Homo sapiens: one gene and its partners. The protein of the gene in region 1 purifies or fractionates together with the protein of each later gene. This does not show direct contact. Each region holds a gene or a part of one and is shown in the gene's direction. Other genes may lie near its edges.

Region 1 (8,310 bases):
ACTGCACCCACCCTCCTTGATGACTTCTTAATGAGGTTTTCATGTGTAGATCAGCCATGGATATCACCTTTTTGTGATGCTCCTCTTCCAGTCTTTTGGCTCTTGTTTGTATTTTTATTTATTAAATAATTCTTTATATGTTTTAAATACAAGCCCTTTGTTGTTACTATATATTCAAACATCTCCCACTCTCACAGCTTGCCCTTTTACTCCCTTAAAGGAAGGGGGAGGTGTCTTTTGAGGATCAGAAGCTTTAAAATTTATTGTAGTCAAAATTGCAGATTTTTAAACTTATATTAAAAGTTGCTTTTTGTGACTTGTGTAGGAAATCTTTGCGTGTCTCAGTGTGCTAAGGTGTTCTATTTCCACTGATCTGAATTGTCAGATTTATGAGCATAAAGTCGTTTAATGTTCTGAAACTATTTTTTATGACTGTAGGATCTGTAATGTCATTCCTGACATTAATAATTTTTGTGTTTTCTCTGTCAGCCTTGGTTAGGGTTTATCAATTTATTTTTTCTAATAACTAACTTGGGCCCTGATTTTCTCCCTTTTCAGTACTTTAAAAAATTTATTATATGCTTTTACTCTACTTTCTTTGGTTTTCATTAGTTCTTTTTTTTTTTTAGCTTCTGAAGATAGACGCTTACATCATTGTATTTTTATTTTTTGTCCAGTCTCCTCTTCTAGCATATTCATTTCAGCCTGTAAACTCTTGATGCCTAGTTTTTCATGATACCTAAATGGAAATATTTGATAAATCATCTGTGATAATGTTAATTAAAGCCTAAAACTTTTTAAGAAATGTTACTAAAGTATACTTCATTCTTTTGAGGGGGGTGGGGGGCTTAAGTTACAATAGGAAAATGTTACTCCATTTTCCTTAGTGTGGAAATATTTTTCTTGTTTTTTAAAAATAGGGCACTTTAAGAGTGCTGCTGGTTCTTTTGCATGATTTCCCAGAGTTCCTTTGTGATTACCATTATGGGTTCTGTGATGTGATCCCACCTAATTGTATCCAGTTAAGAAATTTGATCCTGAGTGCCTTTCCAAGAAACATGAGGCTCCCCGACCCATTCACTCCTAATCTAAAGGTAAGGTTCCAACTAGTTAAAGGAAAACTTATGTCTTAATATTTCAGTCCTTTCTCTGATAAGTAGACTGTTCAGCACTTTCCTACCCAACATAACACGCACACTATTAGTTAAGGGTACTCTTTAAAGGAAATAATGTTATTAAGCCTGATAGAAGGTATGATATTGTTGCTATTGCTGTTGCTGGTGAATATTGGTTCACAGCATTTTTCTAGTTGCTAGTTTTCATATTAATTTTGATATTAAATTTAGCTCTATTTACAGAACCACAGCTTAGGTGTTGGGGCAGTCATTTGCTGGGTGTGCCCCACATGGCAAAGAATTGCAGAACAAACAGACCTTTGTAATCTTTTTCTTTTTTTGAGGCAGAGTCTTACTCTGTGACCCAGGCTGGAGTGCAGTGGTGCAGTCTCGGCTTACTGCAACCTCCCCTTCGCTGGTTCAAGCTATTCTCCCGCCTCAGCCTCCCAAGTAGCTGGGATTACAGGCACTCGCCACCACACCTGGCTAATTATGTGTTTAGTGGAGATGGGGTTTCGCCATGTCAGCCAGGTTGGTTTTGAGCTCCTCACCTCAAGTAATCTGCCTGCTTCGGCCTCCCAAAGTGCTGGGATTACAGGTGTGAGCCACCACGCCCTGCCATAGTCTCCATATTTCACAGTTTTGTGTCTGTGCACTTGTGCAGTTGTTCCTTGGTCCCTTGCTATTCTTGGAGGATTGGTTCTAGGACCCACTGGGACACCAAATTTTAAGTATGCTTAAGTCCTGTATGTAAAGTGGCATATAACCTTTGCATATCCCCTTAAATGACATCTGTAGTGCTTATGATACCTAATGTAGTGTAATGCTATTATGGAAATAACTATTTTAAACTATATTAATAACTTTTTAAAATTTGTGTTTTTTATTGTTGTATTATTATTTATTTGTATTTATTTATTTATTTTTGAGACAGAGTCTCACTCTGTCACCCAGGCTGGAGTGCAGTGGCGCAATCTCAGCTCACTGCAACTTCCGCCTCCTGGGGTCCAGTGATTCTCCTGCCTCAGCCTCCCAAGTAGCTGGTACTACAGGTGCCCGCCACCATGCCTGGCTAATTTTTTTTTTTGTATTTTTAGTAGTGACGGGGTTTCACTAGTTGGCCAGGCTGGTCTCAAACTCCTGACCTCACGATCTGCCTGCCTTGGCCTCCCAAAATGCTGGGATTACAGGCATGAGCCACTGCACCCGGCCTTTATTGTTGTATTATTTTTTATTGACCCCATCATCTACCTCTACCTTCACCCCCCATATTTTCGATTTGAGGTTAATTAGATATGGAACCTAAGGGTATGGAGAACCCACTGTATTTTTTTGTAAGTTGTTGGAATAAAGGAGAGAGAGGACCACTTAAAATCTCACCACCCTGACATGGCTACTATAGTTTGTTTAAGAGACAGGGGTCTCGTTGTTTTGCCCAGGCTGAAGGGCAGTGACTATTCACAGGTGTGAACATAGTGCACTTCAGCCTCAGGCTCCTGTGCTCAAGCCGTCCTCCTGCCTCAGCCTCCAGAGTAGCTGTGACTAGAGGTGCACACCACTAGAAGTGCCCAGCTATAGTTTAGATGTAGTCTCTACTCTTTCTGACACATGCATTTTTTTTTTTTTTTTTTTTTTTGAGACGGAGTTTCGTTCTTGTTGCCCAGGCTGGAGCGCAATGGCGCGAGCTGTGGCTCACTGCAACCTCTGCCTCCTGGGTTCAGGCGATTCTCCTGCCTCAGACTCCCGAGCAGCTGGGATTACAGGCACCACACCCAGCTAATTTTATATTTTTAGTAGAGATGGGGTTTCTCCATGTTGGTCAGGGTGGTCTTGAACTCCCAACCTCAGGTGATCCGCCTACCTCGGCCTCCCAAAGTGCTGGGTTTACAGGCGTGAGCCACTGCGCCCGGCTTCAATTTTTTTTTTTTTTTTTTTTTTTTTTAAGGAGTAAGTGTGATGTCTGGTCTTGCTGGGGCTTCTTTTCAAAGACTCTTGGTGAGTGAGGAATCTTATTCCGGATTATTATTTTGAAACCGAAGTCCAAGAAAAATCAGTTAGTTGTGCAAATTAGACCTTTGCCCAAAAGGTATCTTGCCTCTGGGAAGGAAATACATTATAGAGTGGGAAATTTTTATCATTTTGAACCAAGATTCTTCTAAAGAAAGAAAGACTGATTAATAAAATGTGGCAGCTGTGCTCTTCAAGGCATTTATAGTGTATATAGTTTTAGAAAAACAGTCCCACCACTTAAGCATAGATGTAATTTACTAATAAAAATGATTCTGCTTGTGATTCTTGCATTTTATCTGTGGCAGGTGGACATGTTGAGTGAAATTAACATTGCTCCCCGGATTCTCACCAATTTCACTGGAGTAATGCCACCTCAGTTCAAAAAGGATTTGGATTCCTATCTTAAAACTCGATCACCAGTCACTTTCCTGTCTGATCTGCGCAGCAACCTACAGGTTAATTGGTTTGGCTTAAAACTCATCTACGTCTTCCATATAAAGCACTTTCTATGTATGGTCCTGTGTGTGGTCCATTTGGGAGTTAGTCTTTTATTGTCATTTCCATCAATTGGGTGAGGTTGATTAACTGGATTTACGTATTTTACTAGTTCATTTAATCAGTGATATTTTGCTACAGCTTTGGACAAGACAGCACTAGAAGAGTAGACCACAGACAGTCATTAGCTGTTGGTACTCCTAGGATTTTTCTGAATACCTGGATGCTGATTTACATTTCTCTATAGGATATTTTGGAAAGTTATATATTTACAGTCTGTATATGCCATGCAACTACAACTTTCTCTCCAAATCTTTAATTGGCACAGTGCATATTTTGATTTTATAAACTTTACTTTAGAGCTGTGCCTTGAGCTTCGGCTTCCTGAGGGAAATCACATTTCTCTTATTGATACAACCACCTTTGGAGCATCTGTGTGTTTGTTAAATAACCTCACAAATTCAAGCAAGTGAATCACAATAAATGTTTGGCCTTTCCATGAAGGTGTAAGAAGGGTTTAGAAATACTGGTGCTAGAATTGGTCCTCTGCAGGAGTAAGCATAAGGAGTTCTGTTTTGCTCATTTTAAGGTATCCAATGAACCTGGGAATCGCTACAACCTCCAGCTCATCAATGCACTGGTGCTCTATGTCGGGACTCAGGCCATTGCGCACATCCACAACAAGGGCAGCACACCTTCAATGAGCACCATCACTCACTCAGCACACATGGATATCTTCCAGAATTTGGCTGTGGACTTGGACACTGAGGGTGAGTGAAGCCTGCCAGTTTTCAGAGTAGAGTTCTCTGTGCTTTTTGCTACAATCTGATCACAAAAATGTAAAAATGCTTCAAGCCACAATAGTGAAGGAATGTTCTGTCAGTATATTTATTCACAGGTCTAGCTGATTATTTTATCTTTAATTGGACATTATCTGCTCAGTGCAGGAAATACAAAAAAGCATAAAGGAAAGAATTATCCAGAATCGTGCAGTATCAGTTTTGGTGTATGTGACTGAAGTTTTTTAGTGTGAAAATAAACTTAAAGTCCCTTTAAACATAGCCTCTTGTTACATTGTTTTGTTAGGCTGCCTTATATAAGCATTTTTATTGGTGCGTGTTTGGCAGGCATCTTGTTAAATGTTCATGTATAAAGATTAATGAATAGGACTCTCCTGTTCTGCAAAAAGCTCACAGTATAACTCCTGTTGCAGGTTGCAGCTTTTCTGCTTGAGCTACATTTCATTTGGTCCTCTATATTTATCTTATAAAATAGAGACCCCAGTTAGGTGCTAACTAGTTGTACAGTCCTGTCCAGTTTTGCATACATATATTTTAGGGGGACACTACTCTTTAACTTTGCTATTGATTCTTGAGAGATGAATTGATGTTGCATATATGCTGCATGCCTATATGTGGGATGGATTTAAGACAGCTTAAATTCAAGATATAACAAAATTGAATACCATCACGTCCAAGAGCTCGGCAATAAAAGGACGGCAGCCTTTAGAGAAACGTGTCACTGTGACAGACTCACAAACACGAATAATGTCAAGCAGAGGCAAACAACCAAACCCAATTAAGATAATACTTATTCCAGTGTAGTTTAGACTAATCAAAATGTGGGCTGGGTACCCTTAGGGTGTCAAGACCTTTTTAGGAGGGCTGTGAGGTCAAAACTTTTTTTTTTTTTTTTTTTTGCGATAGAGTCTTGCTCTCACACCCAGGCTAGAAGGCAGTGGCGCAATATCGGCTCACCATAACTTCCGCCTCAGGGGTTCAAGCGATTCTCCTGCCTCAGCCTCCCGAGGAGCTGGGATTACAGGCACACGCCACCATGCCCAGCTAATTTTTATGTATTTTTAGTAGAGATGGGGTTTCACCATGTTGGCCACGCTGGTCTTGAACCCCTGACCTCAAGTGATCCACTTGCCTCAGCCTCCCAAAGTGCTGGGATTACAGGCGTGAGCCACCGTGCCCGGCCCAAAACTGTTTTCATCATAAAACAACATTTACATTTTTGGGTCTATTCTGTCATGAGTGTACAGTTGAATTTCTCAGAGGTTACATGAAATATACTGTAACAAGTTGAACACAGAAGCAGAAATGAGAATCCAGCTGTCTTTTATTAAGCAAGACTTAGAGATCTGCAAAATGTAGAAAGACTTAGTGATGAGTGTCACCAGAAAATAGTTCATGTTTCTTACATTAGCACATAGTGGGTCTGTTTTTAAAAATGAATATTTTTAAAATCTAATTTCTAATGTGGAAAATTCTGAAATAAAACGCACAGAAATGAGAACTCTTTGGGGTCCCAAGAACCACTGCTTTAAACCAAAGATTAATTTGAAAGCCTCTGTCAGAAACCCAAACCCTAGCCAGTTAGAACTGTCTTCCCATGTTGGCCTTTCAGACTAAGTCCTAAGTCAAGGTTTCTTAATTTCTAGGTCGCTATCTCTTTTTGAATGCAATTGCAAATCAGCTCCGGTACCCAAATAGCCACACTCACTACTTCAGTTGCACCATGCTGTACCTTTTTGCAGAGGCCAATACGGAAGCCATCCAAGAACAGATCACAAGGTAAGCGAGCAGCTTATTTTTTAAATGCTTCAAAAGGATCTCCTCCCTTTCATCTTTTTTTTTTCCTCTTTATGCTTTCAGTGTTCAGTGAAAATCCGTTTGGTTGGTTTTTTTTTTGTTTTTTTGAGACGGAGTGTTGCTCTGTCACTCAGTCTGCAGTACAGTGGCGCCATCTTGGCTCACTGCAACCTCCGCCTCCCAGGTTCAAGCGATTCTCGTGCCTTAGCCTCTCAAGTAGCTGGGATTACAGGCGCCTGCCACCACGCCCAGCTAATTTTTGTATTTTAGTAGAGACGGGGTTTCACCATGTTGGCCAGGCTGATCTTGAACTCCTGACCTCAAGTGATCCACCCGCCTCAGCCTCCCAAAGTGCTGGGATTACAGGCGTGAGCCACTGCACCCGGCCTTCAGTGAAAATCTTTTACATGTCCAATAATGTGTTAAATGTGGGATACAATTGTGAGCAAAATGGATGGTTCCTGCCCTCTTAATACTCATTCTGATGGACATTTATCACAAGATAGGGAATTATAAATCGCAATCATGGCTTAAATGAAAAGTAGTTTACCACAAGGCACATTTTGATTAAAGGTCAGGAGTTTCTCTGAGGTGGTGGTGATAACCAGTCCTAAATCATGCAGGCCTATGAAGTCTATGTTAAGGAACTTGGACTTTTCCTCATTACCTCTGGGTTGAAAGCAGTAGCAATAACAGGATCATACTTGCATTTTCCTAACAATAGTTAGGAATCTGTTGCCAGATTGCCTAGACTACATATAGCATTAGAGAGATTGTGATACACACACACACACACTTTAAAAATTGGGCCAGACTCTTAAAACTTGCTCATTTGCCTAATTAGTCACCTATGGTGCTAAATATGGTATTCCTTTGATTTGTGTACTAAAATTTAATATCTTATTGGATGCTTAGATGATGATGATCCATTTTGTTTATATAAAGCTGCAGTAAGTCTCCTTGGACTTGTAATCTTTGTTATGCTTCATGTACAGTTGGTACGTGAAAGGATATAAAGTTAAGCCAATGCTTACTGGCATTCGGAAAAATTTTACCAATTTACATGTGAACTAGCAATGTTAGCTTTTTTTTTTTTTTTTTTTTTTTTTTTTTTGAGACAGTCTCGCTTTGTCGCCTCCTGAGTAGCTGGGATTACAGGCACCTGCCACCACGTCCGGCTAATTTTTTGTATTTTTAGTAGAGACGGGGTTTCACCATCTTGGCCAGGCTGGTCTTGAACTCCCGACCTCGTGATCCACCCGTCTTGGCCTCCCAGAGTGCTGGGATTACAGGCGTGAGTCACTGTGCCCAGCCTGCAGTGTTAGAATACTTAATTCTTATTTTCTGTTTCCTTTTTATTGAGAGTGAGCTTATTTATTTATTTAATTTATCTGTTTATTTGAGACAGGGTCTCACTCTGTCTCCCAGGCTGGAGTGCAGTGGCACCATCTCGGCTCACCACAACCTCCACCTACTGGGTTCAAGCGATTCTCCTGCCTCAGCGTCCGACTGCTGGGATTACAGGCATGTGGCCACCATGTCTGACTAATTTTTATATTTGTAGCAGAGATGGGGTTTCACCATGTTGGCCAGGCTGGTCTCGAACTCCTGACCTCAGGTGATCCACCTGCCTCGGCCTCCCAAAGTGCTGGATTACAGGCATGAGCCACTGTGCCCGGCCTGGGAGCTCATTCTGGAAATTACTACTTTTTGTACTAACTTTGTGTGCCATGTACTCTGGGCTTTATGTGGCTTCCTCTCCCCCATCACCCCTTATTCTGAACAGCTGTGAGGTAGATACCATTATCTGCACTTTATATAAATACTTAGTCTTCTACGGCTAAGAGCAGGGTTCAAACCCAGGTATTCCAACCTGTGCTATTTGGAGTATATTAATCCACCTGTCTTTACTAAAGGTGAAAACTTTTGCATGTGGTTCAATAGTCAGGGAGAAGTTAGAAAAAAAGTAATGGAAGAATAATCATGAATTTGTATGCTTCTATACATTAACTAGCTCTTTCTCCCTTTTTCCAGAGTTCTCTTGGAACGGTTGATTGTAAATAGGCCACATCCTTGGGGTCTTCTTATTACCT
Region 2 (8,310 bases), on another chromosome or scaffold:
CGATTGTGTGTTTTTATCCAGCCACATGCAGCTACTCAGGTGCTGGGCTAGGATTGGCCCAGCTGTATTGGAGAGCTGTATTTAAACAGGTTAAACAGTATGATGAAGCAGATGAGGGAGTTGAGTGTTGAGTAAAAAGTGACGTTAATGGTGATAAGAAGAGAGGTGAGGGTATGAGGGGAGTGGGGGACAATGAGAAAGAATTAGGGTTAAGGGGCTGTGCTATGAGAGGGGCTGAAAATAAGGGCGTTGGGGAAATAGAGTGAGCCGGTCAGATAGGCGGTGGGGGTGGGCAAGTGGGATACTTGGGATTGAGATGATGCAGAGGTTGCAGCCACTGGTAAGGATGAGGTCTAGGGTGTGACCTTGAGAGGATGGGTCGCACAGTCACTGAGGAAGAGGAGGTCAACGAACCAGAGGCTGGAAGGGTCGCATCTGGCTATGGAGATGACTGTAAGCTATCACAACAATGATGGAGAGGGTTGCAGTGATGCAGCGGTTATGGTTTTCAAGGAATGATGGGTGCGTAAGGGTCAATAACAAGAAAGAATTGTGGGTGCTGTAGTTTAAGGGCACGAGCTTTGACATTAGAACGTTGCAGAGGGGAGTGAGCATGGAGGGAACAGAAGGGACCTTGAGAAGCAAGCAGGACCCTTTATTTTGCCCAGGCCTAGTAGGTGATGATGTGGGAGAATTAACGACATGGGAGAGGGCGGCCAGGGAAGTGTGACCTCTGCAGAGGGCAAAGGTCAGATGGAGCCAGAGTCACTTCATTGTCTGGGGACAGGTGGAGTGCCAGGTGCTTGGTGCCTTGTTTGTCCCCCTCTTCTCTCCACGTCCTCCCCACTCTCTGCCGCCATCATCCCATGAGTCCTATGCCGAGGGGCCAGTGCACACATTTCCCTTCACCCTCACCTAACTGGGAGATGAGCATTGTTGCCACCAGCCCTAATGTACAGATGGGGAAGCTGAGGCTCAGAGAGACCAAGTGTCTGCCATATGTGAGGGAGGGCACATGCTGGTAAGAGGCAGTGCTGGGACGGCTCAAGCCAGGCGCTGTCACACCCCCCAGTGCCTTTTGCCTGGGTCCCATAGCCTTCCTGCTTCCTTGGCACCTTCTGTGCCATGAGGGGCACCCCCTGCACGCTGTAGCCACTCCCCCGAGCTGCTCTGTAGCTGCACTGCACCTCGAATCCTGCTTGGACGCGAAACCCTCTCTCCCCTCACGACTCCCACATGCTGAGGTGCTTCAAGAGCCAGATTCACAATGTTCCTTTTCCCTTTATAAAGCAGGTGTTATGGACCCCGAACTGTGGCCTCTGAGGAGATCCTCACATGAGCTTTGGGTTGAGTGGGTGAGGGGTTCCAACCACCTGAGACGAAAGGAATTATGCTTTGTGAATAAGGATAGGCGCATTCTGGGGAAGAAGGTCTAAAGGGGGCTCTGTGAGAAGTCCTGCCTTGAGTCGTCTGTGGGGCCCCTCCCAGCTATCCCAAGAGGACCCCCTCGGGTTCCAGTTGCCTCCTCCCAGCCTGGGAGAAGCTGACCTGGGGTCTGTGTGGGGTCGGAGGGGACCCTCCCCGCCCCGCTGAGAGGTGAGTGACGGATCTTGACCTTTCTTTCTCTTGCAGATTTCCAAGCCCTGGATTCCCTCAAGTCCAGCCCCCTCCTCAGAGAATGGAGGCCCTGCCAGCCCAGGCCTCCCCGCAGAAGCCTCAGGCTCAGGCCCTGGCTCTCCCCATCTTCACCCGCCTGATAAGAGTTCTCCCTGCCACTCACAGCTTCTGGAAGCCCAGACTCCTGAAGCTTCCCAGGCTTCTCCCTGCCCCGCTGTGACTCCATCAGCTCCAAGTGCAGCCCTGCCTGACGAGGGCTCCCGCCACACCCCCAGCCCGGGGCTCCCTGCCGAGGGGGCTCCAGAGGCCCCCAGACCCAGCAGCCCACCCCCTGAGGTCTTGGAGCCCCATAGCCTGGATCAGCCCCCTGCCACCTCACCCCGGCCCCTGATCGAGGTGGGTGAGTTGCTGGATCTCACTCGGACGTTTCCATCTGGCGGGGAGGAGGAGGCCAAGGGTGACGCACACCTCCGCCCCACCAGCCTGGTTCAGCGCCGATTCTCTGAAGGTGTGCTCCAGTCACCCAGTCAGGACCAGGAGAAGCTGGGGGGCTCGCTGGCTGCCCTGCCCCAAGGCCAGGGGAGCCAGTTGGCCCTGGATCGTCCCTTTGGGGCAGAGTCCAACTGGAGCTTATCACAGTCCTTCGAATGGACCTTCCCCACGAGGCCCTCGGGTCTGGGCGTGTGGCGGCTGGACTCCCCGCCTCCCTCCCCCATCACTGAAGCCAGTGAGGCCGCCGAGGCTGCTGAGGCTGGCAACTTGGCCGTTTCCAGCAGGGAAGAAGGAGTGTCTCAGCAGGGGCAAGGGGCTGGGTCAGCTCCAAGTGGGTCAGGAAGTTCCTGGGTGCAGGGGGATGATCCAAGCATGTCCCTCACCCAGAAGGGCGATGGGGAGAGTCAACCTCAATTCCCAGCTGTTCCCCTTGAGCCCCTGCCTACAACTGAGGGCACACCTGGATTACCTTTGCAGCAGGCAGAGGAGAGATACGAGTCGCAGGAGCCCTTGGCTGGACAGGAGTCCCCTCTCCCCCTGGCTACCAGGGAGGCAGCCTTGCCCATCCTGGAGCCAGTCCTGGGGCAGGAGCAGCCAGCAGCCCCTGACCAGCCCTGTGTTCTCTTTGCTGATGCCCCTGAGCCTGGACAGGCACTGCCTGTTGAGGAGGAGGCCGTGACCCTAGCCCGGGCTGAGACCACCCAAGCCAGGACAGAGGCTCAAGACTTGTGTAGGGCATCCCCCGAGCCTCCAGGCCCTGAAAGCAGCTCCCGCTGGCTGGACGACCTCCTGGCTTCACCACCACCCAGTGGTGGCGGTGCAAGGCGGGGAGCTGGAGCTGAGCTGAAGGACACACAGTCCCCAAGTACCTGCTCTGAGGTGAGAATGGGCATAGGGAGAATGGGACTTCTGGGGACAGAGGCCAGGGCTTGGGTGGGCTTCATTCTTTGAACATGGATTTTACATGTCGAGAGCTTGGGCTGTGGTAGTGAGCAAGGCAGCTGTGGACCTGCAGATTGTAGCTCTGCAGAGCCACACAGGACGGTGTGTGTGTGGGGTTTCGTGTGAGGCTCTATCCCAGCTCCAGCAATCGCTAGCTGATTGGTCTTGGGAAGAACGTACCTTAACTGCTGGGCTTCAGAGTGCTTTCCTGATAGTAGCATTGGCCTCTTAGAGTTATATTGTGGGTAAATCGAGGTGGAAAGCTCTCGGCACAGTGCGTGGCAGGTGCTGAGTATTCAGTCTCTCATTATGGGAATATCGTTCAAGGCAAAATAGTGTAGCCATTTAGAGCGTGGGCTCCTGGGTTCATCTCCTGGCTCTGCTTTCCTTTGCCCAGGTGTGACCTTAAAAGAGTGACTTTTCTGCCCTCTGCCTCAGTTTCCACATCTGTAAAATGTGGATAACAAGATGAGTTCTACCTCCAAGGGTGTTGGCAAGGGTTCAATGAGCTGTAATGTCTAAAGTGCTAAGAATAGTGCCTGGCTCATCCTAAGTGCTTAAGAAGTGTTGGCTTTTACAAACGTTATTAACATTGAGCTCCAGACCTGCTTTGTAGACAGGCAGCTGGGCCTCAGAGGAGGTTAGCCTTGTGCAGTTATCCAGCAAGTTGGTGGCTGGGCCCGGGCCAGCGCCGTTTCCCGGCCCAGTGCCCTTTCTCCTACCAGGCTGCCTCTGAATTTAAGGGCCGGGGGCCAGGTGGCTTTCGAAATTTATTTCTCAAGCCGGGCCTGGGCTGCAAGGGGCGGGGCTGCAGGAAAGGAGGAGCCAGGGGGCCTCTGGGGGCTGCGGGGCGGGGAGAAGGAGGAGCAGGAAGGGGTTAAGCTGACTCCTGTAGTAGGTGTGTCTGTCCCGGGATGTGGGTGACTCAACTGGCTCCTGGGCGGGGCTGCCCAAGCTGCAGCTGCTCCGGAGGGAGCAGGGCCAGGGTGAGGGAGAGCCAGCGCCAGAGCCGTCGGACAGGTCCCAGCGCGGGTAGCAGCCCAGCTCTATCCCTGCGCCCGGCTGGCCGCACCCAGCAGCCCCAAGGCGGGTTGGGGGCGGGGGGCCATGGCCCAGCCTGGGGATGGGGAGGCCAGCATGTCTATCCTGGAGCGGCTGCTGGCCAACGCTGCGCTGAGGGATGAGGCTGGCCGGCTCCGAAGCCCTGAGCCCAGGGCTCTCCCGCCCACAAGGGTGAGTCAGGGAGCGTGAGGTGGGGGGTGGGGTGCAAGAAGCCCTGGCTGGGATTTTCCCCTGTGCCAGAGGCTGCCCCTCTTGTCTTTCCTGGGCCAGGGTGAGGGCTGAGAGGTCTTCCTGGGGAAGATTGAGCAGACGGCACTTTGGCTGGGGAAGAAGGGCCTGGGTACTTATAGGAGGATGGGGGTCAGATGGGGCATGGGGGAGGACGGGCTGGAAAAGCTGTCATTGGTGTTGGAACCTTGCCTTGCAAGGGAAGTCGCAGAGAGGCTTTGAATCTTGACCTCTCCTAATCAAAAGGAAAGTGCACTGCCTGCCATTCCTGTGTGAAGACCACTCCTCTCCTGGCTGTTAGCCAAGTATTGCCCAAGAGTTGTAAACATGACCATGGGACCATCGATTGAGTGCCCACTGCATGCCAAGCACTATGCTGAGTGCTTGGTCTAAATGATCTCATTTAATCCTCTCACACCAGCCCCATGCAATAGGAATTATCCTCGTTTAAGGATGAGGACGCTGAGACCCAGAGTGGTTAAGTGATTTGCTCAAGGTCACACAGCTTTCTGTTGCCAAAGTGGGGCTTTCAGGCACTAGGCAGCGCTGACTCTGCTGGATTGACTCCCACCCTGATGGAATCTAATCGTTGTTTCTTTGTCTGTTTTTTTTTCTTATTCCCAGGGACTCCTTGGCTGGTCCCAGAAAGATCTGCAGAGTGAATTTGGGATCACAGGAGACCCACAGCCCAGCAGTTTCAGTCCTTCCAGCTGGTGTCAAGGTGCTTCTCAGGACTATGGCCTTGGGGGTGCAAGCCCTAGAGGAGACCCAGGTCTCGGAGAGAGGGACTGGACCAGCAAGTATGGGCAAGGAGCAGGGGAAGGGAGCACCAGGGAGTGGGCCAGCAGGTGTGGCATCGGCCAGGAGGAGATGGAGGCCAGCAGCAGCCAAGACCAGAGTAAAGTGTCTGCCCCAGGGGTGCTCACAGCCCAGGACCGGGTAGTTGGAAAGCCAGCCCAGCTTGGCACTCAGCGGAGCCAGGAGGCAGATGTTCAGGACTGGGAGTTCAGAAAGAGGGATTCCCAGGGCACTTACTCCAGCCGGGATGCAGAACTCCAGGACCAGGAATTCGGAAAGAGAGATTCACTGGGTACCTACAGTAGTCGAGATGTAAGCCTTGGGGACTGGGAATTTGGGAAGAGAGATTCTCTGGGTGCTTATGCCAGCCAAGATGCCAACGAGCAGGGCCAAGATTTGGGGAAGAGGGACCACCATGGTAGGTACAGCAGCCAGGATGCCGATGAGCAGGACTGGGAGTTTCAGAAGAGAGATGTGTCACTCGGCACCTATGGCAGCCGGGCTGCGGAGCCACAGGAACAGGAGTTTGGGAAGAGCGCTTGGATAAGGGACTACAGCAGTGGTGGCAGCTCCAGGACCCTTGACGCCCAGGACAGAAGCTTTGGAACGAGACCCCTGAGCTCTGGGTTCAGCCCCGAGGAAGCCCAGCAACAGGATGAGGAATTTGAGAAGAAGATTCCAAGTGTGGAAGACAGCCTTGGAGAGGGCAGCAGGGATGCTGGCCGGCCAGGAGAGAGAGGATCCGGGGGCTTGTTCAGTCCTAGCACTGCCCACGTGCCGGATGGGGCACTCGGGCAGAGAGACCAGAGCAGCTGGCAAAACAGTGATGCTAGCCAGGAGGTGGGAGGGCATCAGGAGAGACAGCAGGCAGGGGCTCAGGGCCCTGGCAGTGCTGACCTGGAAGATGGGGAGATGGGAAAGCGAGGCTGGGTCGGTGAGTTTAGCCTCAGTGTTGGCCCCCAGCGAGAGGCAGCATTTAGCCCAGGGCAGCAGGACTGGAGCCGGGACTTCTGCATCGAGGCCAGTGAGAGGAGCTATCAGTTTGGCATCATTGGCAACGACAGAGTGAGTGGTGCTGGCTTTAGCCCTTCTAGCAAGATGGAAGGTGGTCACTTTGTGCCTCCTGGGAAGACCACAGCTGGCTCGGTGGACTGGACTGACCAGCTGGGTCTCAGGAACTTGGAAGTGTCCAGCTGTGTGGGTTCTGGGGGCTCGAGCGAGGCCAGGGAGAGTGCCGTGGGACAGATGGGCTGGTCAGGTGGCCTGAGCTTGAGAGACATGAACCTGACCGGCTGTTTGGAAAGTGGAGGGTCTGAAGAGCCGGGGGGAATCGGAGTTGGGGAGAAGGACTGGACTTCTGATGTTAATGTGAAGAGCAAAGATTTGGCTGAGGTCGGGGAGGGAGGAGGCCACAGCCAGGCCAGAGAGAGTGGCGTGGGGCAGACTGACTGGTCAGGTGTGGAGGCCGGAGAGTTCCTTAAATCAAGGGAGCGTGGAGTTGGACAGGCAGACTGGACACCTGACCTTGGGCTGAGAAACATGGCCCCAGGGGCAGTCTGCAGTCCTGGAGAGTCCAAAGAGCTTGGGGTGGGCCAGATGGACTGGGGTAACAATCTGGGCCTGAGGGATTTGGAGGTGACCTGTGACCCAGACTCTGGAGGTTCTCAGGGGCTACGGGGATGTGGAGTGGGGCAGATGGACTGGACCCAGGACTTGGCGCCCCAGAATGTGGAGCTCTTTGGGGCTCCAAGTGAAGCCAGGGAGCATGGGGTGGGCGGGGTGAGCCAGTGCCCAGAGCCCGGCCTGAGGCACAATGGCAGCTTGTCTCCTGGCCTGGAGGCCAGAGACCCCTTGGAGGCCAGGGAGCTGGGGGTTGGTGAGACAAGTGGGCCAGAGACCCAGGGTGAAGATTACTCCTCGTCTTCCTTGGAGCCACACCCTGCAGACCCTGGAATGGAGACAGGAGAAGCCCTCAGCTTCGGAGCAAGGTAATGAACGGAGCCCCATCCCAAGTGTGGGAGGGAACATGTGAAGGCTGTCCAAGAAATCGGAACCTTTCTGAGGAGGGAAGAAACAGTTTTTCCTGAGGACTTTTAGTGTTTGGGTAATTGAGACATTTTGGACTAAGAATTTTTAGTTCTACTTAAAAATAATTGAAATATGATACACATACAGGTGAGTTCCTTTTTTGAAGGATGACTAATGTGTTACTTTTGCAACCCATGTTTGAGCTTGGTGATTTGGAATTGTGACTGTGACGGGGGAAATGGTGCATGTCATAGCTTGGATGGTTTCTGATGGGTTCTACTCTTGTACACAGTAGCCGTTCCCCAGGCCTCTCAGCCCTGAAGCCACAGGTGGTTTCATAGGTATAGGGCAGAGAATTCCGTGTCTTCTTGGCTGGGGCCACCACAGCCAGGAGTGGAGTGGACAGTGGAACCCACGGGTTCTCAAAGAGGTTAGGTACTTGGTGCTTCTTGCCTGTCCTGTCTTGAAGCCTGGAATAGCAAGTTCAAGAACCTGAAGGGTATGGGGACCTGGCCCCATGACCTTGGCCTCTGTGCAAATTTGCTGAAAGAACTTTCCAAAGGCTTTGCAAGGCAAGCACAGTCTGTTTCATGGATGTTTTAAAACCAGCTGAGATGGTTTTGCAGCTGAGAAACGTGCTAAAAAGGCATTGCATCCGTTTTGTTAACATTTCCATCCATTGAGATTCGCTTTTATTCCCTTTAGTGAGCAGAAAATGTTACCTTTTCCAGCCCCACAGTGGGAGCTTCTCACTGGGTATGTGGGGAAGGCAAGGGAAGTGTGGGGCAGGGGCTTTTATAAGTGGAAGGGGTTGGTGGTGGGAGGAGAGGAGCAGGAAGGGGCTAGAGCATATCATGGTGGTCTTGGGGACTCTGGAGAGGCATTTGGGATGGAGGAGGAGAAGGGAGAGAGGAAGATGGGCCCAGTGAGATGCCCAGGGGGATTTGAGGAAGTGGAGCTTCCTGACGACTCAGGCTGTTGACGGGGTGGTGACGGAGCACAGGGAACCACTGAGGCTGCATTGAGGACTGCAGGGACGAGGGGAGGGCGCAGGACTAGGAGTTGGGAGGCCCTTGTGGTCCTGGGCAGGTTGCTGGGCTCTGAGCCTCAGTTTCTCAGGGTTTGACTCAGGAAGTGCAGAGT
Region 3 (4,664 bases), on another chromosome or scaffold:
TGTGGCCCCCTGCGTTCCTGGCTTCTCGTCGTTCTCTTCCCTCCCACTCCACTCATCTTGAACACTCTCTGTAGATCTATTGATGCTATCCCTGACAACCAAAAGTTTAAGCAGTTGCAGAGGGAGCTCTCTCAAGTGCTGACCCAGCGCCAGATCTACATCCAGCCTGATAATTAAGCCGATCCAGGTACCCTGCCTGAGAGCCGCGAGACCCTCCCCACTAAAACAGGACTCACCAACCCGCCGAGACCCTGCCGGTCCGGCTGCTGCTCCGCGGCCATTTAAACCACCACTAACCCCCACGTGTGCTCCCGGTCGGTGCACAGCCACATTCCCGTGTAGCCTCGGCCCCATGTAACACGGCACCTATCACGTGTGTGTGCTTTCCACTCTGGGTGGAGGCTGGGTGTGGGGAAGACGGCTGATTTTTTGGCTTTTGCTTCTGAAGAAGCCCAGGCCAAGGGACGGATGCTGCCTCTCCAGCAGCAGCCACTTGTGTGCACCGGCCTGACTGTCCCCAGGGCAGGGATCTGCCTGCCGTCCACCCCCCCATGCTTCAGAGGAGCCTCTGATGCTGGTGCAGGGATCCCAGAAGCCACATAAGCCTCCCCGCTGCTCAGCGGCACATTGCCTGTCCAGGGCTAGCTGGCTTGGAAGGGGTGACCTCACTCTCTGATCTCTGAGTCTCTGGGGTTGGAGGGCAGAGTCAGGGCTGGACTCCACCCTGGCTGGCCCAGATGCTCTGCTGGAGCTGCCTGGACGCCCAGTGCCGACTCGGCCACAACCAGCATAACCTTCCGCCCCTAACGAGCTGCAGCTGTTCCTTTAAACAGGTTTCGCTAATGGAAAGGAAAATAGTCTTGCTTGTTGGTAATGGCCAAGAACCATGACTTGAGCTTGTGACAGATCCAGATGTAGGGAAGGAGGCAGCATCCCTGGAGAGTAGGAGGGAAACTTGTTTGTAAAAAGAAGGCATTTGGAACCCTGCCAACTGGGGCTGCAGAGCCCAGGTCCAGGGGCTGCGCACTGAAGGCCCACCCCAGAAGGGGTGCAGCAGACTTTCCAAGGTGGAGGTGGGGTCAGGCACTTAGAAAACCAGGTGGAGCTGCTTTTCCGAGGCCGTGGGACTTAAGTGCACCAGTCTGGTCTGTGTGTGCCAACTTAAGGCCCACGACTCGGGTCAGCCTCACAGTGTGGCCATCAGGCATTTCCATCATGGCATTGAGAAAAAACTCTTTTTAAGATACACCGTGATGGTGCAGTTCCCTGGCCGCCCACTGGGGGCGTCCTGGCGTAGAAACCCTGGCAGCCAGGTCTGCTCAAGATGACTCCTCCCTCCCACAGAGTCGAGCACTGTCTCCAAGCGCTGATTCGAGGTTGCTTGGCCGTGACCTTCCCAAGCATTGTCCCTTAAATAAGCCCCCTGCTCCTTCCGCCTTCCACCATTTCACTTCTAACTTCCTGTGTCTAACATGATTCTAGCTCTGGAACTTTCTCCTTCGTGTGATCCAGCCAAGACCTGGCGGGCTTGGCTCTTCCTTCCCAGAAGAGCCAGTGACCACCCAGGCTAGAGGTCCTGTGCGCTGCTGCTTTGCCCGCCGCATCTCCCGCTGGCCATGTTGACCTCCCGCTGTGAGCTTGGCAAGAAGCCCCTGGGGAATCGGCTGAGATTTGGAGCCTGGGGGCCGTGGGGGCTGATGCCTTTGGCCGCCGCAGAGCCAGGGACAGTCCTGGGAAGATACTCAGAAACGTGTATTTCCCCAGCATGAACCAAATGTCTGCGTTTCTCCTGGGAGTTTTTTCAGTTGTATGCAGCTTGCTTCCAGGTCTTGTCTTATGGCACCTGCTGAGTATTTTGAGGGCTCTTCCTGTGACTTGTAGGGATTCGGTAGCCAGAACTCAGTCTGGGTGCTGTTGCTTCTCCTGGGCCCTGCTTCACTTCCATTTGCCCATTTTTGCTTCTGGGGATTGATTTTTCTGATTCTTCCTTCCCATGGCTGGTGTGAATCAAACGTGAGAGTCCGGCTGAGTGCACTCTCCGTAGCACTCTTCTTGAGCAGCCCTCTACCCACTCTTTCCACTGCTTCTAAACTGTTATAAAACCTACATTTAGGAAGTCTTTGCCTAACCAATATGTTGGGTAAATTTGACAAAATGATTAAAGAATTGCTAGGGGGGCATTCCTCTGAGCCTCAGTTTCCTCATCTGTAAATTGGGTTGATAGCTTTTTTCTTTTTTAAGCCTTGACTTCGCTTTTTGTTGTTGTCGTTGTAGAGATGGGGTCTCACTATGTTGCCCAGGCTGGTCTTGAACTCCTGGCCTTAAATGATCCTCCTGCCTTGGCCTCCCAAAGTGCTGGGATTACAGGCTTGAGCCACCACATCCGGCCGGGTTGATAGTTGAGACTTCCCCAGGATGCCCGTGAAAATTAAATGAGATAATATATGTGAAAGGCGTTTTGTAAACTGTGAAATCTCCATAAGCCTTCATTGTTTCTGGCTTTGTTGATGAGCGTCCCCACACATACGTGAATGCGGTCGCCCTGAACGTTTCCCCACAAATCCAGAATTTGACAGCAGGGATCCCAGGGGCACTTGGCTGTCCTGTGCCGCCCTTTGCAATCCGGGCTGAGGGGTTTTCTGGGCCAAGTTAACAGCGGATGGTGCCTCACAGCAGAGGCCTGAAAGCACCTGCTGCGTGGGCCATAAACACAGTGTGCTCAGACACGCAGAGACACTGGTTCTTACCCACTCCCAAGGGTGGGATAACGCTGCACCTTGCACTTGTGGGATGAGGAATGAGGCTCTTCTGCTGGGCAGGGCCTGGGCAAGGGAGAAGCTTTTATAGAGGAACCCGCATGGCCCCGGAGTCCTCCCCTCTTAGCCCCTGGCCTGAGTCCCCAGCCAGCAACCCAGGGTAGCTGTTCTGAAGCAGAGGGGCTTTGTTCCATTGTGTTTGGAAGCCCAGAAGCCACCTTGTGGCTTAGGGTGACATAGGGACCTACACACAGAGGAGTGAACTTAGGGTTCTAGGGACTATGGCCGGGTCACCGGTGGCCAGGGGCAGAGATGAGCACCTGTCCATGTAAGCCATATGCCACCCCCACAGGGCCTGGCAAGGTGCAGAGGGTGCAGGTCTCGGCCATGTACCCCTTTGCCCCTTTCTGAGAGGGGCAGATGCCCAGCCCAGTGACCCAGAGCCTCACCCCAGGAAGCGGGTCCATGCAGCAAATCAGCCAGGCACTGGCATGGTGGCCCCCAGGCCTCCACCGCCTCACCAGTCCCTGTTCAATCTGCTGATAACGCCTTTCCTCCCTTGCAGGTCTGTGCAGACTTTTGCAGACAAATCAAAACAAGAAGCTCTGAAGAATGACCTGGTGGAGGCTTTGAAGAGAAAGCAGCAATGCTAAACCTCTGTTTCATGCTAACCAGACACGCCGTGCACTCGTTAGATTCCTTTCTTAGAAAACTCGTTTTCTGCTCCCTTCCCTCGTCCCTTCCCTCCCCGACAGGTCACATAACAGCTGCATCATTGACCGCACAGCGCCATCTCTCCCTGAGAATAAAGCCGATAGCCACCCTCCTCCGGCTCCGAGCCTGCTTCTGCCACACCTCGCTCTCAGTTCTCTCCACATTTCCATAGAGACCGTGTGGTTTTTGTTCACCCGGGCCCCCCGTCTTCCTCCCTGTCCCCCCATTTATAGGCATAAAATCCACTGTCTGCCAGCCTCCCTTCCCTCCCACCTTTTTGGTACATTGGTGTAAAAAATGTAAAACAAAAAAATTTTATGAACTAACTGTGGTGTGTGAAAGAGAGAAGAAAAACTGGAAATCTTATTCCGTGTGTGTTTGGGAGTTGCTTGGGGTTGGGGGTCGTGGGGACAGGGGACAGCTCTGGGAGCAGAGGTGGCCCTCGGTGCCGTCCTGCGCAGACTCTCCCGTCCCACGGAGGCCGCGGGGTGGGGGCTGGGGGGGGTGCCGCCGACCGTTCCGCTCTTCCGGCCAGGTGCTTTTCTGTCAATTTCTATGGAATGCAAAAGGAGGTTTTTGTTTTATTTTGTTTTTTTGTAAAGCTTAAGAAAAAAATCTACATCTTATACTTGAGCCTCCATACTTAAAAAAAGAAAAGAAAAGAAATCAATAAAAAGAAACTGGGGCGCAGTTAGCGCTGGCCTTCTGTGTTCCTTCTCGCCGGCCTCGCTTTCCGAGCGCGTGTGGCCGTGGCCGTGCGCTGGCTCCAAGCTGGGACGCGTGTGGGCCCCGCTCACGGCAGCAAGGAAGTGTCCCGTCCCCAGCCCCGCCGCCCTGAAAACACCAGGTATGTGATGAGGTGCAGAGTCCCTGTCCCTTTCCGCCCTCTGCCGTTGGAGGGCAGAAGCACCAGCAAACACTGTTCTGGCGCCGCAGCACGCACCTCCCGCCGCCTTCCCACTGTGCCTAGTACAAATGTGAGGCAGCCGAGGTTCAGTTGCAGTAACTCAGCCAAGGCTGCACAGAGCCACAGAGTCTGCCTTCTACCCTCCAAACTGCCCCAGGGAAGATCTGAAGCAGATCTCAAAGTCCCTGCCGAGACCATCCCCCCATCTGTCCGTGGCCAATCAGCGGGCTCCACAACCTGGCCAGCCCATGTGTTTGAGGTCCCTGGGTCTGATGCAACATCTTTTT
Region 4 (8,310 bases), on another chromosome or scaffold:
ATATGTTGTAGTTACTCAGTATACTTCTTGAATGAATGAATGTCATTGCCATTTTAAAATTAAAAATACAAATAAGCCAAAAGGAGAAATTAAGTCACCAGTCTTGCCACACAGACCTAACTACTAACATTCTTCTGAAGATGAGAGATAACTAGCCTCCTGCCTCTGGTCCCTGAGTCTTCCTTCATGGGGAGGGTTCATTGTAGGGACTGTGGCCATGGGACAACCTTGCTGGTAAAGCCAGCTGTTGAAGAGCCAGAAATATTGATAGTAGGCTTGCCAGGAAAATTCCTTTGAAAGTGGCACTACTTGCTGGCTCTCAAATTACTATCCTCTGTAATAAGGGTCAGATTTAAAATTACATACTCAGGGACAAAATATAAACTTATGTTTGGATTAAACTTTTTCTACCTGTTTAAAAAGACAAGTTAGAATACCTATGTTGTGTATGCCTAGAACTTAGAAAATTATAATGTACAAGAATCTTTTCTGTTGTGTTTTTTGTAAGTGGTCTTGTGAGTTAATAAAGAAGCAATGTGATTGGATGGGAAGAACAGCGGATTGGGAGTCTACAATGTCAAATATTAGACCTAACTAATCACACACTAAGCTAAAGATTATGTTTACTCACTTTGAGTCTCTGTTTCCACATCAGTTAAACAAGGAACCACACTAGACAGTCTTTCAGCCCTCCCATGGTAGTATAAGGCATAAACCTCAATTTCGTTATGCTTCTCAAGGACCACTCTACTTTTCTGTGTTGTTAAGAGTTGAGGGGCTGCCTTTCTAAGATTCTAGGAACCAAATTCTAGGGTAGTTTTCTAAGATTCTAGGAACCAAAAGTTAGCAAGTGAAGAGGAAACAGAATACTTTTGAATTTGCCCAGCTGTGCTTTTTATAGGAAGAGCCATTTCTAGTCAGAGGATTTCAGAACATTTCAAAACTCTGTGGTGATATACTGGTTACATTCTTCCTTAGACTAAAATTACAACCTGAATGCACTTAATGATACATATGTGTATTGTAATTTGTAAACATAACTCAAAACCCTGTATCTGAGTGAGGTCATTTGTGGTTAGCCATTCAGACTTCATTTCTATTTGACAAGGGTTTATTTTAAGATTGCTTTGTGGAGCAGTTGTTTAACATTCAAGTGATCTATTAGTATTAAGTCTTTAACCAGACTTGTTTTAAATGAGCTGTCTGTGAAGTAGAAAACCAAATATTATAGAAACTTAGATTTCCAATCCAACTTAGCGAAATCAATGTAACTTAAACGTTGTCTTCACATATGTTTGTTTAACCTGTTTTTTTTCCTTCAGTATTCCTTTAGAAGAATAGTAACTGTGTGAATAAAACTTTTTAGTTACTCTTGATACTATGGTTTAGCAAGAACTGTAGACTTAATTGGTTGAGAAAAGAACATTTAAAGTAAATGAATGCTTTAGTAAGTTAATTATTTCTTAGCATATCACAAATATATGTAGAAAGAATAAGATCTCATTCTATAGCTTTATTCCTAGGTTATTAAAAGCAAACTTCTATGGAAGTTAGTTCTCATTAGGCTATATATATATAGTGTGTGTGTGTGTGTGTGTGTGTATTTATCTATACATATATACATACATACATACATACAGGCTATGTATTGTAATCCATTGGTTATTTTGTTGGGGATGTGGGTCAATTGGATGAAAGCTAAAGATGACTTATGTAAATAGCCAAACTGTGTTTCAGAATTGTTTTATACATCAATCTAATTCTTACCATTAGTACCGTGGCTTCCTCTCCTCTTTCCTGGTGTCCAGATTGTCACAGCTAAAGGGCATTTCTTCCTATTTAGCAAATATAACCATTATCAATGTTTAAAATGAGATTTTCGGCCCCTTCCCTTTTGTGTTATAGGTGCTCCATACTTGCTTGCAGTGCCTACGTGGCTCTGGCTTTGGGTGATAACCTCATGGCTTTGAATCATGCAGATAAACTTCTTCAGCAGCCCAAGCTGTCAGGATCTCTTAAGTAAGTGTGACTTGCCCTGTGTGTCCCTGGTTTCTTTAGTTTTGAGGTTTCTCCTTGGTTTGTGGTTTATGTTGCTTCTTTTGACTCCTCCAGTGGAATATATATTTGTAAGGAAAGCAACTGTTTAAAAGAACGTTTTTTAACCCATGCCTCGGCAGTGAAAATGTTTTCACTTGTGCTGTACTGAGCGTTAGGAGACAAAAACTTCGGACTCTAGTGTCCACTTCTAGGCTTCACTGCAGCACTTTAATTCTCCAAATAAGTCAAGTCCTCAGAGAGAAGACCTACAAAAAAAGGAGTGTGGTCAATGTGATAAATCTACTTTGAGGGACCAGGCACGGTGGCTCACGCCTGTAATCCCAGCACTTTGGGAGGCCGAGGCAGGCAAATCACGAGGTCAGGAGTTCAAGACCAGCCTGGCCAACATGGTGAAACCCTGCCTCTACTAAAAATACAAAAAATTAGCTGGGCGTAGTGGCGGGCACCTGTAATCCCAGCTACTCAGGAGGCTGAGGCAGGAGAATCGCTTGAACCCAGGAGTCAGAGGTTGCAGTGAGATCTCTGCACCACTGCACTCCAGTCTAGGCTACAGAGCAAGACTCTGTCTCAAAAAAAAAAAAAATAGACAAGAATTTGAAAAATCTTTCCAAGCTACTGTATCATTCCAGAATCAGCTAGTTTTAGTCAAACTGCAAATACTTCTTCATTAATATCATTGTCATTCTAAAATTTTCCAAAGCACATTATCTTTTCTTTTACCAAAATTGAGTAAAATACAGGCCAGGTGTGGTGGCTCATGCCTGTAATCCCAGCACTTTGGGAGGCTGAGGTAGGCAGATCATTTGAGGTCGGGAGTCTGAGACCAGCCCAGCCAACGTGGTAAAACCCCATCTCTACTAAAAATACAAAAATTAGCCAGGCATGGTGGCAGGCATCCATAATTCCAGCTACTCGGGAAGTTGAAACAGGAGAATCACTTGAGCCTGGGGGGCGGACGTTGCGGTGAGCCACGGTTGCACCATTGCACTCCAGGCGGAGTGACACAGCAAGACTCCCTCTCAAAAAATAAAAATAAAATACAGCTTGAATTTTTGTATGGTGCTGATCCTGGAAATTTTATCAAAAGCCACGAGTATTCTGCACAACATTAGAACAGTTCTTTCATTCATCGTATAGGTGTATACTTACAAATGCCAAAATATAACTACTTACTCTTTGGCTTTTTAGTGATCCCCAAACATACCTAGTGTTTTTGTTTTTTTTTTAAGTAATTAAGGCCAGGCGCTGTGGCTCACACCTGTAATCCCAGCACTTTGGGAGGCCTACCTGGGCAAATCATTTGAGGTCAGGAGTTGGAGACCAGCCCTGCCAATATGGTGAAACCCCATCTCTACTGAAAATATGAAAATTAGCCGGGCATGGGGGCACACTCCTGTAATCCCAGCTACTCGGGAGGCTGAGGCACGAGAATTGCTTGAGCCTGGGAGGCAGAAGCTGCAGTGAGCCAAGATTGTACCACTGCATTCCAAACTGGGTGACAGAGTGAGACTCCATCTCAAAAAAAAGTAATAAATCATTCAACTATATAAGAGACTTTGTCACAATTCAAATATAAGGGAGCTCCTGCTCTTCTGCAAGAAAATCTTGTCCAATATTCAGGCCTGGAGATGGGGAAGATCCTAATTTTCAGTTCAAGGCATTTGGGTTGCCTCTAAAGTACCTTCCGTCCTTATCATTGCCCAACTCAAAATGCCAATGTTGGGAATTGCAGCTGATGCTGGTGTTCAGATTGTGGTGTATACGGCCATTATGAGAGAACTGGACTTTGTGTGTTTGTGTGTGACTGAGTCTGTCTGGGTCACCCACACTAGAGTGCAGTAGCACAATCTCAACTCACTGCAACCTCCACTGTCTGGGTTCAGGCGATTCTCCTGCCTCAGCCTCCCGAGTAGCTGGGATTACAGGAGCCCACCACCACACCCGGCTAATTTTTTTTCTTTTTCTGAGACAGTTTCACTCTGTTGCCCAGGCTGGAGTGCAGTGGCATGATCTCAGCTCACTGCAACCTCTGCCTCCCCAGTTCAAGGGATTCTCCTGCCTCAGCCTCCTGCGTAGCTGGGATTACAGGTGCACGCCACTATGCCCTACTAATTTCTTTTTTTTTTTTTTTTCTTTTTTTGAAACGGAGTTTCACAGGCATGAGCCACCGCACCTGGCTACTTTTTGTATTTGCTCTTATTGCCCAGGCTGGAGTGCAATGGCGTGATCTCGGCTCATCACAGCTTCCATCTCCCGGGTTCAAGCGATTCTCCTGCCTCAGCCTCCCAAGTAGCTGGGATTACAGGCATGCACCACCACGCCCGGCTAATTTTGTATTTTTAGTAGAGATGGGGTTTCTCCATGTTGGTCAGGCTGGTCTCGAACTCCCGACCTCAGGTGATCTGCCATCTTGGCCTCCCAAAGTGCTGGGATTACAGGCATGAGCCACCATGCTCAACCTGGAGAGTTTTAAAACTATAAAAGTTTAGTTTGTGGTGGTGTTGTTCTTGTGTAGAAAGTCATTAAGATTTTGAGCAGATCAAAAGGTCCCCAGTTAAAAAAAAAAAAAAAAGCTGGGCATGGTGGCTCACGCCTGTAATACCAACACTTTGGGAGGCCAAGACGGGCGGATCACGAGATCAGGAGATCGATCTTAATTTTTATTTTTATTTTTTTTGAGATGGCGTCTCACTCTGTCATTCAGGCTGAGGTGCAGTGGCATGATCACTGCTCACTGCAGCCTCAGTCTCCCATGCTTAAGTGATTCTCCCACCTCAGCCTCCTGAGTAGCTGAGACTACAGGTGTATGCCACCACGCCCAGCTAATTTTTGTATTTTTTTTGTAGAGACAGGGTTTTGCCATGTTGCCCACGCTGTTCTCAAACTCCTGGACTCAGCAGTCCACCCACCTAGGCTTCTTGAAGTGTTGAGATTAAAGGCATGAGCCACTACACCCAGGCAGTTGATTCGTTTTACCTAAATAAATTTAGATTTCAATTTAAGGACATGAAATATGAGACCTATATCCAATGTATAATAACATAATATACCCAGCATTATTTTACATTGGGTATTTTTGTGACGTTGTACTTTTCAGTTTGGAATCTGTTTTTTCATTTTAGGTTTTTGGGACATTTATATGCTGCAGAAGCCCTCATCTCTCTCGACAGAATATCTGATGCCATTACTCACTTGAACCCGGAGAATGTCACTGATGTCTCCTTAGGGATCTCTTCAAATGAGCAGGACCAAGGTTAATGAGGACATCTTTGATCAGAACTGGTCACTGTTTCCATTTCCCTCCTGTCATAATTCAGGATGTGTGGAAATTTAGGCATGGTGGTAATGAGAAGAAAGTTTTAGGTTGGCTTTCCACATTTTTGTCTGTACTTACTTTGTAGCAGTTGTTTGCTAAGTAGACCTGAGAGTTAATGATCACATCATCTAAATTCTCACTTTTGAAAGGCTGGTACTGTTAGAATGGTTAATTTTGGTTCTGATACTATTTATTTGTTTTCCTTTGGAGTGATTCTAAAATCCATAGGGGAGTAAAAATATTGCATTCAAGAGTCAGTTTTAGTCCAGGCGTGGTGGCTCACGCCTGTAATCCCAGCACTTTGGGAGGCTGTAGCAGGAGGGTCACTTGAGCCCAAGAGTTCAAGACCAGCCTGGGCAACCTGGTGAGACCCTGTCTCTATTTTAAAAATAAGGAAAGAAAAAAAAGTTTGTTTTAAGTCATTGCTAAATTTCTAAATAATTGTCGGGTGCGGTGGCTCACACCTGTAATCCCAACACTTTGGGAGGCCGAGGCAGGTGGATCACCTGAGGTCAGGAGTTCAAGACCAGCCTGGCCAACATAGTGAAACCCCGTCTCTACCAAAAATACAAAATTAGTAGGGCGTGGTGGTGCAAGCCTGTAATCTCACCTACTCAGGAGGCTGAGACAGGAGAATCGCTTGCACCTGAGAGGTGGAGGTTGCAGTGAGCCAAGATCACGCCACTGCACTCCAGCCTGGGTGACAGAGCAAGACTCTGTCTGAAGAAAAAAAAAAAATTAAATAATTAAAGCTATGTGACATTCATTTTACTCAAGACTAGTGCTCAGGTTTGAGATGGTGGTGGGTGGTAGCATTCTGGCATTTTTTAATGGAATCTCCACTACATGAAAAGTAAATAAATTGCTTTATATTAAATTTCCATTTCATAAAGAAAGTTAGGTTTTTAGAAAATATGCTCTCAGCTGGCCACAGTGGCTCACACCTGTAATCCCAGCACTTTGGGAGGCTGTGGTGGGTGGATCACCTAAGGTCAGGAGTTCAAGACCAGCCTGACCAACATGGTGAAACCCTGTCTCTACTAAAAATACAAAATTAGCCAGGCATGGTGGTATGCCCCTGTAATCCCAGCTACTCAGGAGGCTGAGGCCAGAGAATCACTTGAACTCAAGAGGCGGAGGTTGCAGTGAGTCGTGCCATTGCACTCCAGCCTGGGCGGCAACAAGAGCAAAACTCCATCTCCAAAAAAAAAACCAGCCTGACCAACATGGTGAAACCCCGTCTCTACTAAAAATACAAAAACTAGCCAGGGATGGTGGCACATGCCTGTAATCCCAGCTACTCAGGAGGCTGAGGCAGGAGAATCGCTTGAATCCAGGAGGCGGAGGTTGCAGTGAGCCGAGATCATGCCCCTGCACTCCAGCCTGGGCAACAGAGCGAGGCTCCATCTCAAAAAAAAAAAAAAGAAAAGAAAAGAAAATATGCCCTCTACCTTCTGAGCCCGAGGAGAAAAGAAAGAAAATATGCTCTGTTGTTCTGCCCCTCAGATTTATTTTCGTGTTTTTGTAGGATCAGACAAAGGTGAAAATGAAGCAATGGAATCCTGTAAGTAAGAAGTTTTGTGATACTTAAGTAGCCTGGCCTGCATCCCAAAAATTTAGATTCTAAATCTTCTGTGTTCGTTTTTCTGCCTGAGGAATACTGCTGTGCCAAGTGGCTCCTCAAGGCGATAGATTGGGTTGCTTCCTTGCTGTTGGCACGGCCTCTTCACCAGTGTCTACACTCTTTTTCCCCAGCTGGTAAGCGGGCCCCTCAGTGCTACCCCAGTTCCGTCAACTCTGCCAGGACTGTGATGCTGTTCAACCTTGGCAGCGCTTACTGCCTGAGGAGCGAATATGACAAAGCCCGAAAGTGTCTCCACCAGGTGAGTCCAGAGTGGGAGGAACTGAACCTTGTAAAGCAGCCAACACAAGTTTGAGGTTTATATTTTTTGTTACTTTGTTTGAAGCATCTGATCAGTTTGTTAAATATTGGAATATCACTTTCCCAGATATAAAAATATTCTTGCAAGGTAAACAACTAATCAGCATTGTAAATGAACCTAGACACTTAAAGGAAAGTTCTTCTTGATGATTTTATTTTAAAAAAAATTTTTTTTTGCCAGGCACAGTGGCTCATGCCTCCCAGCACTTTGGGAGGCCGAGGCAGGCGGATCATGAGGTCAGGAGTTTGAGACCAGCCTGGCCAATATGGTGAAACCCCATCTCTACTAAAAATACAAAAATTAGCCAGGTTGGTGGCACGCACCTGTAGTCCCAGCTACTCGGGAGGCTGAAGCAGGAGAATCGCTTGAATCCGGGAGGCGGAGGTTGCAGTGAGCCAAGATTGTGCCACTGTACTCCAGCCTGGGCAACAGAGCGAGACTCCGTCTCAAAAAAAAAAAAAGATGTTTAAATTTCAAATCAGCAGAATAAAAAGCAACTTGGGGCCGGGCACAGTGGCTCACATCTGTAATCCCACACTCTGGGAGGCTGAGACAGGCAGATCACTTGAGTCCAGGGGTTTGAGACCAGCCTGGGCAACATAATGAGACCCTGTCTCTACTAAAAATACCAAAAATTAGCCAGGCATGGTGGTGCATTCCTGTAGTCCCAGATACTTAGGAGACAGAGGTAGGAGGATTACCTGAGCCTGGGAGGTTGAGGCTGTAGTCAGCCAAGATCATGCCACTGCACTCCAGCCTGGGCAACTGGAGTGAGACCCTGTCCCCCCAAAAAAAAAAGACAAAAGAAGTAAGTTGACAGTTTTAATTATTAAAATTCCAAAAGATGGAAAACTGTCTAAAAGATCACTTATATAAATAATAGTGCATCTGTACAGTTGAAGACAATGCAGCTATAAACTCTAGGTACTAAAATGGAAAGATGTCCAAGACATACTAAATGAAAACAGCAAGGTGTGAAACAGTTTCTGTATA

Evidence for each region.
Region 2: the proteins of CNOT1 (region 1) and TNKS1BP1 purify together in Homo sapiens (affinity purification with mass spectrometry; 5 studies listed by BioGRID and IntAct, with this or other methods). This does not show direct contact.
Region 3: the proteins of CNOT1 (region 1) and CAPZB purify together in Homo sapiens (affinity purification with mass spectrometry; 5 studies listed by BioGRID and IntAct, with this or other methods). This does not show direct contact.
Region 4: the proteins of CNOT1 (region 1) and CNOT10 purify together in Homo sapiens (affinity purification with mass spectrometry; 4 studies listed by BioGRID and IntAct, with this or other methods). This does not show direct contact.

What each region holds. Positions count from the first base shown.
Region 1 is NC_000016.10:58,521,259-58,529,568, reverse strand, and holds part of CNOT1 (CCR4-NOT transcription complex subunit 1), read left to right. Parts: intron 1-920; coding exon 921-1,094; intron 1,095-1,463; exon of another isoform or gene 1,464-1,646; intron 1,647-3,430; coding exon 3,431-3,580; intron 3,581-4,209; coding exon 4,210-4,390; intron 4,391-5,726; exon of another isoform or gene 5,727-6,066; coding exon 6,067-6,199; exon of another isoform or gene 6,200-8,251; coding exon 8,252-8,310.
Region 2 is NC_000011.10:57,307,212-57,315,521, reverse strand, and holds part of TNKS1BP1 (182 kDa tankyrase-1-binding protein), read left to right. Parts: intron 1-1,632; coding exon 1,633-2,988; intron 2,989-4,003; exon of another isoform or gene 4,004-4,158; coding exon of another isoform or gene 4,159-4,284; intron 4,285-4,965; coding exon 4,966-7,127; intron 7,128-8,310.
Region 3 is NC_000001.11:19,338,275-19,342,938, reverse strand, and holds the end of CAPZB (F-actin-capping protein subunit beta), read left to right. Parts: intron 1-74; coding exon of another isoform or gene 75-177; exon of another isoform or gene 178-187; intron 188-3,321; coding exon 3,322-3,409; 3' UTR 3,410-4,164; downstream 4,165-4,664. UniProt on the Homo sapiens protein: F-actin-capping proteins bind in a Ca(2+)-independent manner to the fast growing ends of actin filaments (barbed end) thereby blocking the exchange of subunits at these ends.
Region 4 is NC_000003.12:32,757,553-32,765,862, forward strand, and holds part of CNOT10 (CCR4-NOT transcription complex subunit 10), read left to right. Parts: intron 1-1,905; coding exon 1,906-2,019; intron 2,020-5,180; coding exon 5,181-5,311; intron 5,312-6,902; coding exon 6,903-6,938; intron 6,939-7,129; coding exon 7,130-7,257; intron 7,258-7,497; exon of another isoform or gene 7,498-7,625; intron 7,626-8,310. UniProt on the Homo sapiens protein: Component of the CCR4-NOT complex which is one of the major cellular mRNA deadenylases and is linked to various cellular processes including bulk mRNA degradation, miRNA-mediated repression, translational repression during translational initiation and general transcription regulation.